3 separate regions of the Homo sapiens genome follow, and regions 1 and 3 are each reported to be linked to region 2. The links are microRNA targets in miRTarBase. Many come from high-throughput screens and were not tested one by one. Region 2 holds a microRNA gene; each other region holds the end of a gene's coding sequence.

The links. The annotated mature microRNA hsa-miR-193a-5p reads UGGGUCUUUGCGGGCGAGAUGA and lies in region 2 at 1,980-2,001, shown strand. An mRNA with a match to its seed (bases 2 to 7 or 8) in the 3' UTR can be bound and repressed. Matches are read on the target gene's strand: a 7mer-m8 pairs with bases 2 to 8, a 7mer-A1 pairs with bases 2 to 7 and ends in A, and an 8mer does both.
Region 1: miRTarBase lists TP73 as a target of hsa-miR-193a-5p. Seed matches in the 3' UTR shown: 7mer-A1 at 414-420 and 8mer at 2,420-2,427.
Region 3: the mRNA of ARSD is a reported target of hsa-miR-193a-5p. Seed matches in the 3' UTR shown: 7mer-m8 at 1,357-1,363.

What each region holds. Positions count from the first base shown.
Region 1 is chr1:3,732,703-3,736,786 of GRCh38, forward strand. It overlaps TP73 (tumor protein p73), which reads left to right. Exons shown (of 14, transcript NM_005427.4): 14 at 45-3,499. The coding sequence ends at 377. It also overlaps the pseudogene GFOD3P. Among named protein-coding and RNA genes, the nearest start is that of CCDC27, 18 kb to the right of the region's middle. RefSeq lists an enhancer at 753-1,541.
Region 2 is chr17:31,558,037-31,562,141 of GRCh38, forward strand. MIR193A (microRNA 193a) reads left to right here and starts at 1,960; the gene lies at 1,960-2,047. RefSeq lists a silencer at 742-1,231 and an enhancer at 973-1,763.
Region 3 is chrX:2,903,429-2,907,524 of GRCh38, reverse strand. It overlaps ARSD (arylsulfatase D), which reads left to right. Exons shown (of 10, transcript NM_001669.4): 10 at 1-3,553. The coding sequence ends at 254. ARSD-AS1 (ARSD antisense RNA 1) reads right to left here and starts at 2,621. Exons shown (of 2, transcript NR_144459.1): 1 at 2,320-2,621; 2 at 1,403-1,957.

The DNA of each region.
Region 1 (4,084 bases), not on the chromosome of region 2:
CCTGCTCCACTGCCCCCTGCCCCTAATGCGCCGGCCTCTCGCAGGACCTGGGGGCCCTGAAGATCCCCGAGCAGTACCGCATGACCATCTGGCGGGGCCTGCAGGACCTGAAGCAGGGCCACGACTACAGCACCGCGCAGCAGCTGCTCCGCTCTAGCAACGCGGCCACCATCTCCATCGGCGGCTCAGGGGAACTGCAGCGCCAGCGGGTCATGGAGGCCGTGCACTTCCGCGTGCGCCACACCATCACCATCCCCAACCGCGGCGGCCCAGGCGGCGGCCCTGACGAGTGGGCGGACTTCGGCTTCGACCTGCCCGACTGCAAGGCCCGCAAGCAGCCCATCAAGGAGGAGTTCACGGAGGCCGAGATCCACTGAGGGCCTCGCCTGGCTGCAGCCTGCGCCACCGCCCAGAGACCCAAGCTGCCTCCCCTCTCCTTCCTGTGTGTCCAAAACTGCCTCAGGAGGCAGGACCTTCGGGCTGTGCCCGGGGAAAGGCAAGGTCCGGCCCATCCCCAGGCACCTCACAGGCCCCAGGAAAGGCCCAGCCACCGAAGCCGCCTGTGGACAGCCTGAGTCACCTGCAGAACCTTCTGGAGCTGCCCTAGTGCTGGGCTTGTGGGGCGGGGGCTGGCCCACTCTCAGCCCTGCCACTGCCCCGGCGTGCTCCATGGCAGGCGTGGGTGGGGACCGCAGCGTCGGCTCCGACTTCCAGGCTTCATCCTAGAGACTGTCATCTCCCAACCAGGCGAGGTCCTTCCAAAGGAAAGGATCCTCTTTGCTGATGGACTGCCAAAAAGTATTTTGCGACATCTTTTGGTTCTGGATAGTAGTGAGCAGCCAAGTGACTGTGTCTGAAACACCAGTGTATTTTCAGGGAATGTCCCTAACTGCGTCTTGCCCGCGCCGGGGGCTGGGGACTCTCTCTGCTGGACTTGGGACTGGCCTCTGCCCCCAGCACGCTGTATTCTGCAGGACCGCCTCCTTCCTGCCCCTAACAACAACCACAGTGTTGCTGAAATTGGAGAAAACTGGGGAGGGCGCAACCCCCCCCAGGCGCGGGGAAGCATGTGGTACCGCCTCAGCCAGTGCCCCTCAGCCTGGCCACAGTCGCCTCTCCTCGGGGACCCCTCAGCAGAAAGGGACAGCCTGTCCTTAGAGGACTGGAAATTGTCAATATTTGATAAAATGATACCCTTTTCTACATGGTGGGTCAGCTTTTTTTTTTTTTTTTTTAACTTTCTTTCTCAGCATTCTCTTTGGAGTTCAACCTAGCGCCCATGAGCCAGGCTGAGGAAGCTGAGTGAGAAGCCAGGTGGGCGGGACTTGTTCCCAGGAAGGCCGGGTGGGGAGGAAGCCTAGAGGGAACCCCAGGAAGGGCAAATCCAGGCAAATCTGCAGGAATGCTCTGCCATGGGAGCAGCTCCTCCCTTGCCACGGCCACCTTCTCTAGCACTGCAAGGTCCACAGGGCATTGCTTTCCTTTCTAGGCGGTGGCAGTCAGGGAACAGACTGAGGTAGGTGTAGGGGGGTCTAGGCCTTCGTGGAGCACCCCAGGGAGTTAGTAGGCCCCGGGGAGACAGAGTCTGCACAGGCCCTTTCTGGGGCCACCTCCATCCACGAGGAGCAGCCTGAGCCTTGGTGGCCGAACCTTGACCGTCCCGGAGCACAGCTTCAGGGCAGGGAACCGGAGCCCCTGGGGGGCCTCACGGGTGTGACGAGGCCCTTCATTGCAGGCAGGTGGGCCAATGGGAGCCCTCACCCACGCAAGCCGAGACACCACCCAGAGTGCAGGCTGCCTGGCCCCTTCTGGCACGGCCAGCTCCACACCCCCTGCCTAGGGTATGTGTGGTCCTAAGGGCTAGGAGCTTCCCCTACTAACATCTCCCAGAAAAAGCAGTTAAGCCCCTCAGGGCACAGCAAGGTTAGACACAGCCCCCATCCCCAGATCAGGACTCCATCTTGCTAAGTGGCATCACCGTCACCAGCCTCCCCTTATTTAAAAGCAGCGACTGGTGTTGCCGCAGGTACCTGGTCTACGAAGACGCAGGCATCCCTCTCCCACCGTCCACCTCCCCGGGGGCCGCTGACAGCACAGTCGCCTGGGTGCACGCTTGTGGGGGCAGCAGGAACGGGGCTGTCGGCTCTCAGGGGATCTGGCTGCAGCCAGGGCGAGGGCCTGGCCCTTCCTTCCAGCTCCTTCCGGCTCCTTCCAGCTGAAGGGCAGGAAGCTCTGGCCGCTTAGCTTCTAGGGTTCCATCTCCCTAGAAAGGTGCCCACGCCCAGGGCATCAGTCAGTAGCGGCAGCAGCAGCAGACTCGGGGCTTTCCCAGGGTGGCGCAGCCACCCCAGCTGCATGTCACCTCAGCTCTCCATCTTATTGCCATTTTGTAGATGAGGAAGCTGAGACCAGAAAGGCTAAGACCCATGCCCCAGGCACCACACCCATCTCTTGGGGGCTGGGCACCTGCTACCCGAGGCCACCTCCTGAAGCCCCCACTCTTCCCCCATGTTCCACTTCAGGAGCCGCGGGGGCCCATCCTGACACCCGGGGTTCCTCAGCCCAGCGCAGATGTGCTTCAGTTCCAGAGGGCTTGTTGATTTGTTTCTTAGGTACGTTACCTGTCCACCCTGAGTCCAGTGAGGCTGTCCCAAGAGCCCCTGTAGTGTGCTCCTGGGAAGGGCTGGGGGGGCTGGGGGGGCTGGGAGAGGCCCAGGGGCAGCTGTCACTGGAACCCCAGCCAGATGTCCAAGGAAGCCGGCCAGAACACGGAGCAGCCAGATGGCCCCAGCTGCACCTGTCTAGGGAGCCCATGCAGCCTCCTTGCACTGGAGAAGCAGCTGTGAAAGTAGACAGAGTTGAGACTTCGCCGTGGTCAGGAGAAAATGCAAATTCCCAGGAACAAGAATCCTTTAAGTGATATGTTTTTATAAAACTAAACAAATCAACAAATAAATCTTGAAGGCGGATGGTTTTCCCAGCAGTGCAGGGGTTGGAGGGAGGCTGCTGGCACTCCTGGGGCCAAGGGGGACAGGCAGTGGTCCTGAGTCTGCTCAGAGAGGCAAGGCAGAAGGAGCTCGCCAGGCAGGTCAGCTCACATCTGTCCAAGTCGCTCTGGTCAGAAACAGCGACTCTCCCCCATTCCCCCAGCGTTCCCACCAGGCCTGGGCTGCTGGGAAGCCCTTGCTGTACCCAGGAGCCCGACCCGCAGTATCCTGGCACAGAGCCACTTGTCACTCAGAACAGTCAGTGTCTCCAACGCACAAACATCCACTCCTCTGTTACCAGTTAAAGCACTTTAATGCTTTAAGGTGAAAACGAAATCCCATCCGTGTTTTTCGTGTAAGATCGTGCTTCTCCGAGCAGTATTAATGGACGCCCTCCAATGACATAACAACTGTTTTTGGTAATGTAATCTTGGGAAAATGTGTTATTTTTTTAGCTGTGTTTCAGTGGGGATTTTTGTTTTTGTAACATAATAAAGTGTATGTTCCAATGACCGGTTCTCATGACTCAACCTAAATCTCCAAAGGGCTCAGACAAACAGGGCGGCTCCTCACAGGCAGGAAGCCCGTGGCCTCTGTGGCCGGCCCTGGCACCCCACTTGAGTTTCTCTGTGTCGTGAGTCTGATGGGTCCCTGGGGTGTCCCTCTGCCCTGTGCCTCGGAGGACCTGCGGGCCAAGCCGAGTAGCCTCATGGGACTGACCGGGCCTCTCAGGCCTCCTGAAGTACAGGCCCATGAGCCCTCATCCAAGCCCTGTGGGGCCCAGGCCTTCTGGACTTTAGCTAGGCCAAGCAGGGTCTCAGGGCGTCACAAACACCGACACAGAACGCACTCCCGTTTCTCAGCAAAACCTAAGAAAACAAAAGGCAGCAGAGAGCCTCATGTTGGCTCAAGCCAGGCTGAGACCAACGGGCTTCATTTCAGTTCTCTTGGTTCTCAGGTTTCTTGGTTTCAGAGTTGTGAACAGGGACTAGGGACTTGTCACAGCAAAAACAAGGCTCTAGAAATCTGTTCAACCTTGAAGGAGGCCTCAGTCTTTTTAGAAATTGGCCTAAAACAAAGATAGAAAGGACCAAGGC
Region 2 (4,105 bases):
TTTTTTTTTTTTTTTTAACTTTTTGTAAAGACAGAGTCTCACTATGTTCCCAGGCTGGTCTCAAACTCCTGGGCTCAAGCAATCCTGCCTTGGCCTCCCAAAGTGCTGGGATTACAGGTGTGCGCCACCGTGCCCAGCCTCATAGTGAGATTTAAAGGCATGATCTGGGTTGGTGAGGCCAGGAAAGAGAAGGCAGGAACATAGCTAATATCTATGTCGGGACACAAACAGATATGTCACGTTATTTTCTTTAAATGGCTCCAAATCTCGACCTGAAGAGGTTGGGAAACTCAACCTCAGTGGTTATTTGGGCTTCCCCATCACCCACGGTGCCTGGAATCCTGGCCATCTTGAGGCTGGGGATCTTGGTAGAGGCCTGGTTCAGGTCCCAGAGGAGACACGCAGTTACTCTCCCACATCCTGGCGTCTCCGGAGAGACAGTGGGGCAGCAGGTCTCCACCAAGGGGATTCCACTGACCTCCCACCCCTCGCTAATCTTGGGACAGCTCTTACTCAGCCTCAAAGCTTTTCTGTCCCACTCCTTTTCCACAGTCTCCCTAAAGGAACTCAGCTTTTCAAACAGCACAGCCAGGAAGAGAGGTTGTCTGCAGGCCGCTGGAACTGGGAGTTGAAAGCACGAAATTTTAACATCTCAAGAAAGTATGCTGCCCGGTACTATGCTTGGCACTTTAATTTATAATCTTTGCCACCAAAGCCCTGCCAGAAGTGCCCGGCGGCTCCAGGTTCTAGATGGGGAAGTTGAGGCCGGCGGCAGGCGCGCTCCACCGGGCGGGGGCGCGGCCCGGGAGCGGAGCGGCCGGCAGGGGGCTCCCCGCGCCGGTCTCCGCGGGAGGAAGCGCTGGCAGCTGCTCGGACGGGTCAAAGGAGGAAAAGGGAAAATTACTGGGCTCCGGGGCGGGAAGGACTGCGTGACTGGGAGGAAGGCACTCCAGACTGTCGAGTAGGGCCGCCCGCGTCGGGACCCCATCCCCGGGGCAGTGCGGGCCACCCGGGACCTGGGAACCCGGGCCACCCCCCACCGCCGTCAGGGTCTCTCCCGCCGGTGCCGCAGGCTGGAGCGGGCGTCGCGGCCGGGGGCGGTGCCGCCTAGGGGCGGGCGAAGGGCGGGCCGGGGCGGGGCGCCGTCCGCTCGGCTCCGGGAGGCGGTGCGGGCGGGCGCTGGCCGCGTCCGCCCGCCGGGAGCCGCGGGGCGCGCAGCCTTCCTGATGTGTCACCAGCACGTGGAGCCAGGTCGGGCCGCGGCGAGCAAGCCGACCCCCCCAACTTTCGAGGGGTCTCGCCGCCCCGCTCCTCTCCCGGCTTCGTCGGGCTCGCTCTCCTAGCGGAGGGGGCGGCGGCGGCCCCCAGGTCCCGGGCAGGTCGAGCGAGGCCACGGCCCCCGGCCAGGAGTTCGAGGGGCTCCCGGAACGTCGGGGCGCGGGCCCCGGCTAGCGGCTATGGCCCCCGTGCCCAGGCAGCGGTGCGGGCTCGGCCTTGCGGGAGGGTGCGGCCTGCTGCGAGAGGTCGGCCACGGCTCCTGCCCCGCGCCCCGCGCCCCTCGCCCGCCGAGCTGAGCGCAGGTAACCGAGGCAGAGCGGAGCTGGGCCTCGCAGGCGCGGCGTGGGAGCGTGGCGAAGTTTCTCGGCGCATAACTCTTGCGCCCCACTCGGGAGTGGGGCTGCGGTGGGGAGGCTTTGGTCCCCGCACCTCCCCCTCCCCCAGCGCTGTCCCTCGGCCTGAGCCGAGGCGGCCCGGGGGTGGCGTGGAGGCCGCCGAGCGTCGTGTAACCCTTGGAGGGCTGGGTTTGGAGCCCGCGACCCGAGGTCGGGCGGGGCGGTGGACTTTCCCGGGGAACGCCGCCTGAGGGACACCCAGAGCTTCGGCGGAGCGGAGCGCGGTGCACAGAGCCGGCGACCGGACCCAGCCCCGGGAAGCCCGTCGGGGACGCACCCCGAACTCCGAGGATGGGAGCTGAGGGCTGGGTCTTTGCGGGCGAGATGAGGGTGTCGGATCAACTGGCCTACAAAGTCCCAGTTCTCGGCCCCCGGGACCAGCGTCTTCTCCCCGGTCCTCGCCCCAGGCCGGCTTCCTCCCGGGCTGGCGTGCGCTCCGGCCAGGCTGCCTCTCAGGTCCACGCTGGAGAAGGAGTGGTGAGGTGCGCTCGCCCCGGCTGCGTGCGGTGATTCGGGAAATCCCCGCACTTCGCTGGAGAAATAGCGACGCTCTCGGAAGTGTGAGTCGGTCACTGCTTGGGGTCCGTACCCTTTGGGCAGACGTGGACCGCGCCCCGGCGACCTGGGTTGAGTGGACAGACGGGACCCGGCTTACCCATGGGCCAAGCCCTGCCACTTACCGAGGCCTGCCCTGCTGTGCTTTCCAGGGCGGCAACCTTGAGCTTGGGGGTGGGGAGAACGGGGCCTGACTTCTAGAATTGCCCCTGGGGAGGTGGGAAGCGGAGGTTTGGCCCGGTGGCGCAGGAAGCCCCTGTTCCTCTCCCAAACACCATTTCATTAAAGATGGATCTTTGTGGATGTGTTCCCAATGGCCGGTCTTTTGTTCCCTGACCGATGCAACATAATGTGGACCCACTCTAGTCCTCTTCAAGTTTTTTGCTGGAATTCCTTAAACTCTCCTTTAAAGTCTCTTATCTATTCCTCTAGTGCGTTTGCTTCTACTCCCCGAAAACAAAAACCCACCAACCCCTGAAACCTCGGGTTTGCCTGGTGTTGGAACTTTGGTTATTTGTCCTTTGTTTGTGTTGTGTTTTTGGCTCTTGGCCGTGGAAAAACATCTGGGGACATGCAGTGAGGTGACTTGAACTGTGTGAAGAACTGGTTGACAAAATAGGGAACGTCTGGTCCCTGTCTTACTTGGCTTTGGAAAACAGGAGAGGTTTTTAGGAGCTGGGAGGAGGGAGGGTGAGAGGGAGGAACCATCACGGCCAGGTTGGCCCACCCCTTGCCAGGTCGTGTAAAAACCCATTCAAGAGGCATTTTCCCACAGGCTCCCTGCCTCTGCAGGCCACGTGTAGAGTAGTCCTTTGCAGGCGTCCTGCCCATACTGTTGTCCCTGTTTTGGGGGCATGTGGGAGCCAACACAGGGGAGTCAGGTGTGTGGTAGGCAGTCAGGTGTGTTTTGGGGTCAGGGAGGCAGGTTTGGGCCTGGGAGGCCAGGAAGGGACATACCCCGTCCTGCAGTTGGCCTGACTTTTGTCCATGTTAGCTTTGTCCTGGAGGCTTACCCAGTGGAACATGCAGATGTCAGAATTATGGGAGAAAAGAGTTTGGCCATGGGGTAGATTTCTGAACATCTTGACAAATTCTTAGTTTGGAGACAAAATTGTCTAGGAGTGGAACTGATGGGAGCTTCAACTGGAGACCTCGCCCCTAATTAAGAAAAATGCTCTTTGGAGCGCTGAATCAGCTTGGGAAAACAAAGTTCTCCCTTTGAACCAATGCCTCTCCCAGCCCTGGGGATCAGTGTCTAAAAGTAAATGAAGTGGAAATCTCCAGAATATTGCGTGGTCATAAAACATCCCAGAAGTGGGCTGGAGCAATGAGATGCCGAAAAGCAGGCCTGGCTGGCTGCCCTGCACCCACCCTGGAGGGGACCGGCTGGGGAAGGTGGACTCACAGGGCTGGGAATGAGGCCTGAGGAGCACTGTGGTGCCCCCGGCAGTTTCCCTCAGGCTGTGCCCCATTCTTTCTGGGTCTGGCCAGGGCTTTAGAGATTTTTAGGAAATGACTTGGTGCTTCGTTTCTTTGGGGGAAGTGAGTGATTAGGTTTTTCCTTCTTGGGTTTTTTTCCTTTGCAAAATGTGATTGAATCAGCTATGCAGTAGGCTGGGCTAGCCTGGCCTCCTGCAACTGATTTATGCTTCCGTGTAAGCCGTTGTATTGAGGAATTGTGTTGTAGTGGAGAGCTTTTTGATTTTGCTCTCTCTTGAATTCATAGTTTCCTGGAGCAGAGGCCTCCTTCCTGGCTCCTACCCCCACCCCCAGTCCCTCTTTCAAAGATGGGTACCTCAAGGTTTCAAGGGGAAGTAGCTTGAACATAGACTGATTTACCCTGGAGCCTTCTTCAGGAAGCAGCTAAATGCAAGGTA
Region 3 (4,096 bases), not on the chromosome of region 2:
ATCACAGACCCCCTTTGCTCTTTGACCTCTCCAGGGACCCCTCCGAGGCACGGCCCCTGACCCCCGACTCCGAGCCCCTGTACCACGCCGTGATAGCAAGGGTAGGTGCCGCGGTGTCGGAGCATCGGCAGACCCTGAGTCCTGTGCCCCAGCAGTTTTCCATGAGCAACATCCTGTGGAAGCCGTGGCTGCAGCCGTGCTGCGGACATTTCCCGTTCTGTTCATGCCACGAGGATGGGGATGGCACCCCCTGAATGCCAGGACTGTGAGAGAGGATCCAGGAGAGCCTGACTGCGTTGCAAACAAAATTCTCCAAGCTTGGTTCTATCTTCAGCTTCCCTTTTTGCAAGGAACATGCCCTGGACTGAGAGTGGGTCCCCACTTTCTTTCTTTCTTTCTTTCTTTTTTGAGACAGAGTGTCGCTCTGTCCCTCAGGCTGGAATGCAATGGCACGATCTCTGCTCACTGCAACCTCCGCCTCCCGGGTTCAAGCGATTTTCCTGCCTCAGCCTCCTGAGTACCCAGGATTACAGGCACCAGGCACCTGCCACCATGCCTAGCTAATTTTTGTAGTTTTAGTAGAGACAGGGTTTCACCATGTTGCCCAGGCTGGTCTCGCACTCCTGACCTCAAGTCATCCACCTGCCTCAGCCTCCCAAAGTGCTGGGATTACAGGCACGAGCCACTGCGCCCATGTAGGGTTTCCCTTTCCTGATTTGTGAAATAAGACTGTCCCAGTAGGCACCCACTGATGCCTCCTCTTCCTCTTCTAAATCTCAGGGTTCGTCATTGTGCCAATGCCCGATGTTTTCACCCCTCCGTCTTAAAGCATTGTTGCAATTTCATCACCTAGATGACATAACAGCCTTACAAAAGGACAGGGAGGAGTGTCTGTTCCTACTCTCACATAGCGGAGGAAAGTTAGAGCCTCTCAGTCTCTGTTTATGAGGACTCATTAATCTCAAATAATTGATGCATTTTTCATACATTAGGGTCTCTGTCCATGTGTCTTCCTGATATTGTTATAGAAATGGCTTCAGGCTGCTGGTAACAGATGCTGCGGAAAAAGAATGCCTTAAACAAAGCCAGGCACGGTGACTCACACCTGTAATCCCAGCACTTTGGGAGGCTAAGGTGGGAGGATCACTTGAGCCTAGGAGTTAGACACCTACCCAGCCTGAGCAACACAGTGAGACCTCATCTCTACAAAAAACAAATAATTAGCTAGATGTCGTGGCGCACAGCTGTAGTCTCAGCTACTTAGGAGGCTGAGGCGGGAGGATTATTTGAGCCTGGGAGGTCAAAACTGCAATGAGCTAAGATTGCACTACTGCACTCCGGGCTGGGAGACAGAGTAAGACCCTGCCTTAAAAAAAAAAAAAAAAAAATGCCTTAAAGAAAATAATAAGAGAAGGGTGTGTTCTCTTCCAAGTAATGAGCCGATCAAGGGGAAGCAACCCAAGGCTAGCAGGCTCTTTTCAATTCCCAGCTCTGCCACTCTTAGCATGGCAGAGAGTTGGCCTCATTATGCCAGTATGGCTGCCACAGTGTCAGACATCACATTCCAGGCAGTGGAAAGGAGAAAGAACCAAAGGGCATCCCTTTCTCTTGAAGCAGTCCCTGTGAGGGGGGATTATCTGGAAGCCCCAACCCAATTTCTGCTTCCAACCATTATCCATAGAAACAACTGGAAGTTGAGAAGTGCAGTCTTTTAGGTGGGCACCTGGCTGCCCTGTATGAAACCAGAATTAGGTTGGTCAGCAGGAAAACAAGAAAACACTTACTGTGTTGACTGAGGTTTTTGACGCATCGCTTTATTGTCAAATTAAACAACTCTATCTCATTCTGCACTGAAACACGTACTACCATTGCCTATAATTGGAAAATGATCCTCAGAGGCACAGAAGATGCCCTGATGGAAAGTTTGCCCCTTGGGCAAAGAGACAGCCATGGGAACCTTCAGACATAGAGAGAGAAGGTGGCTTTTCTCCCTACATTCCTCAAATAGCTAAGATTTGGCCAGTGTGTTTTCTAAGTCAATTCTAGTGTGTTTCATCCTCACCTCTTCCCTCTGTGGCTTTGATGATGGAAGTGTAGTCCTAACCTACTGCACAGCTGGGACCCCCTGCCCCTAGATCCCAATACTGGGGATGGGAGGACCTTGCACTATTCCCCTCAGTCCATCTATCGAGGTCTTTGCAGGAAGCATACTGGGAATTGAAACGAGAGCCTAAATGACATCTAAGAAAGGCAGTGTTCAATACCAGGTATTAGGTGAGGATGGGATTCTAAGGACATCAGTGGGAGGCAGGGAGCCACCTTCAGACCTCAGCATGGAAGCTTCCAAGATCCAGAGGAAGAGGCAACAGCACTGAGAGTCATAGGTAGAAGAATCATCACAGCCCTGCTAACCAGGCAGCTGATGCCCCTCTCCCCTGGCTCCCTGTGTCCAAATCCTACAGGGGCATCTGTTGGCTGAACTCAACCTGAAGCCAAAGAGAAGATGAGTGGAGAGAGGCAACATTTATAGAGCTCAGGTTTCTAGGGCTGGAGAGGGATCTGGAGGGACACACAGGAGACACCTGGCATAACCAAAAAATGATTAAAAAAAAAAAAAAAAAGAAACATCTATGGAGCATGGGACACGGGGAGTGGAGGCAGCTAAAAGCCATCTCATCTTTCACCGTATTCAACAAGCCCATTATAACAAGTCTTTCACGCTCAACCATTCAAACAATCCCAACAATCCCAGCCTAAGAATTTCCTGGCATTTGATGAAAATGGCTGTGGGTTTTGCTATCTTTAAGCTCCCTGGGAAGCAGGATATAAGCCCAGGGCTGGCAGGCTCTTTCTAGCTACCTGCTCTTGCACATAGAGTTTGCCTCATGGTTGCAAGAAGGCTGCCATAGCTCCAGATGGCACATAGACATTCCAGGCAGCAGGAAAAAGGAAGGAGCACTTAACCGAAGGAGGTCAGGGAGTTGGTTAGTCTCCACCTGAAGAAGAGAGCCATGAACCAGCTTCAGTTGACTAACGGGCTCCTGTGAGTGCATCTTTGGACTTTTCTGGAGGTTGAAATCTAGATGTGGTATGTGTCTTAAAGCAGCCACCAACTCCTCCCATTACCTTCCAAGTGAGCCCAACTACACGATGGAGCCTCTTCCCTGCCCTTGGATCTGGGCTGAGCCTCTGACTTGCGTTGACCAACAGAATGCAGTGAAAGTGATGCCGATACTACCCTCCCTGCCCTAGACTTGGGATACCTGGCAGCTATATTCTTCCATTCCTCAGGACTTGCAAAAACGGGTCTCAGCATGCCTTCCCAGAGCCATGAGGTGTTTCTTTGCCCATTCATTGATCTGAGAAGTGAGTGTAAGGAGTTTAAATCAACCTCTGTTCTGTGCTAGTTAAGGTAATAAAGTTGCTGCAGTCCAGGGGGTAGGTACCTGTGGACGGCTCTGCGAATAGGACAGTTGCATTTCTTGGGAATCAAGTGCATCCCTAGGCTGGCAGTGCAGCAGAAATACTGAATAAAATGTGACAAATCTCCCTGGATGGTGTCATTTGTTTGTTTTTATTTCCCATCCTCAATCCTACTTTTCCACCTCCACCCCTTCACCCCCCAGCTTTGAAGGAACTCACCTGGCATTGCTATTCACTATTCATGGAGAGAGGACTAAACAATCCAAACTCCCCCGTTCTGAAAAACTTAAGTCACAGTCACAAGTGTACTCCTGTGCTTTTAGGGTTATACAGGGGAGAGAGGGCGACTGGGAATAAGAACGCCTTAAACAAGAGAAAGATGTGTTCTCTCCCAGGTAATGGGGGTCACAGAGGAAGCAATCCAGGGCTGACAGGTTCTTTCCAGCTTCCTGCTCTTGCACATAGGGTTTGCCTCATGGTCACAAGATGGCTGCCATAGCTCCAGGCAGCATGTAGACATTCCAGGCAGCAAAAAGGAGGAAGGTGCAGTTAACTGAAGGATGTCAGGGAGCTGGTTAGTCTCCACCTAAAGGGGGCAGCCTTGAGCCAGCTTCAGTTGACTAACTTGGGCTGCTGTTGGTGTATCTTTGGACTTTTCTGTAGGTTGAAGTCT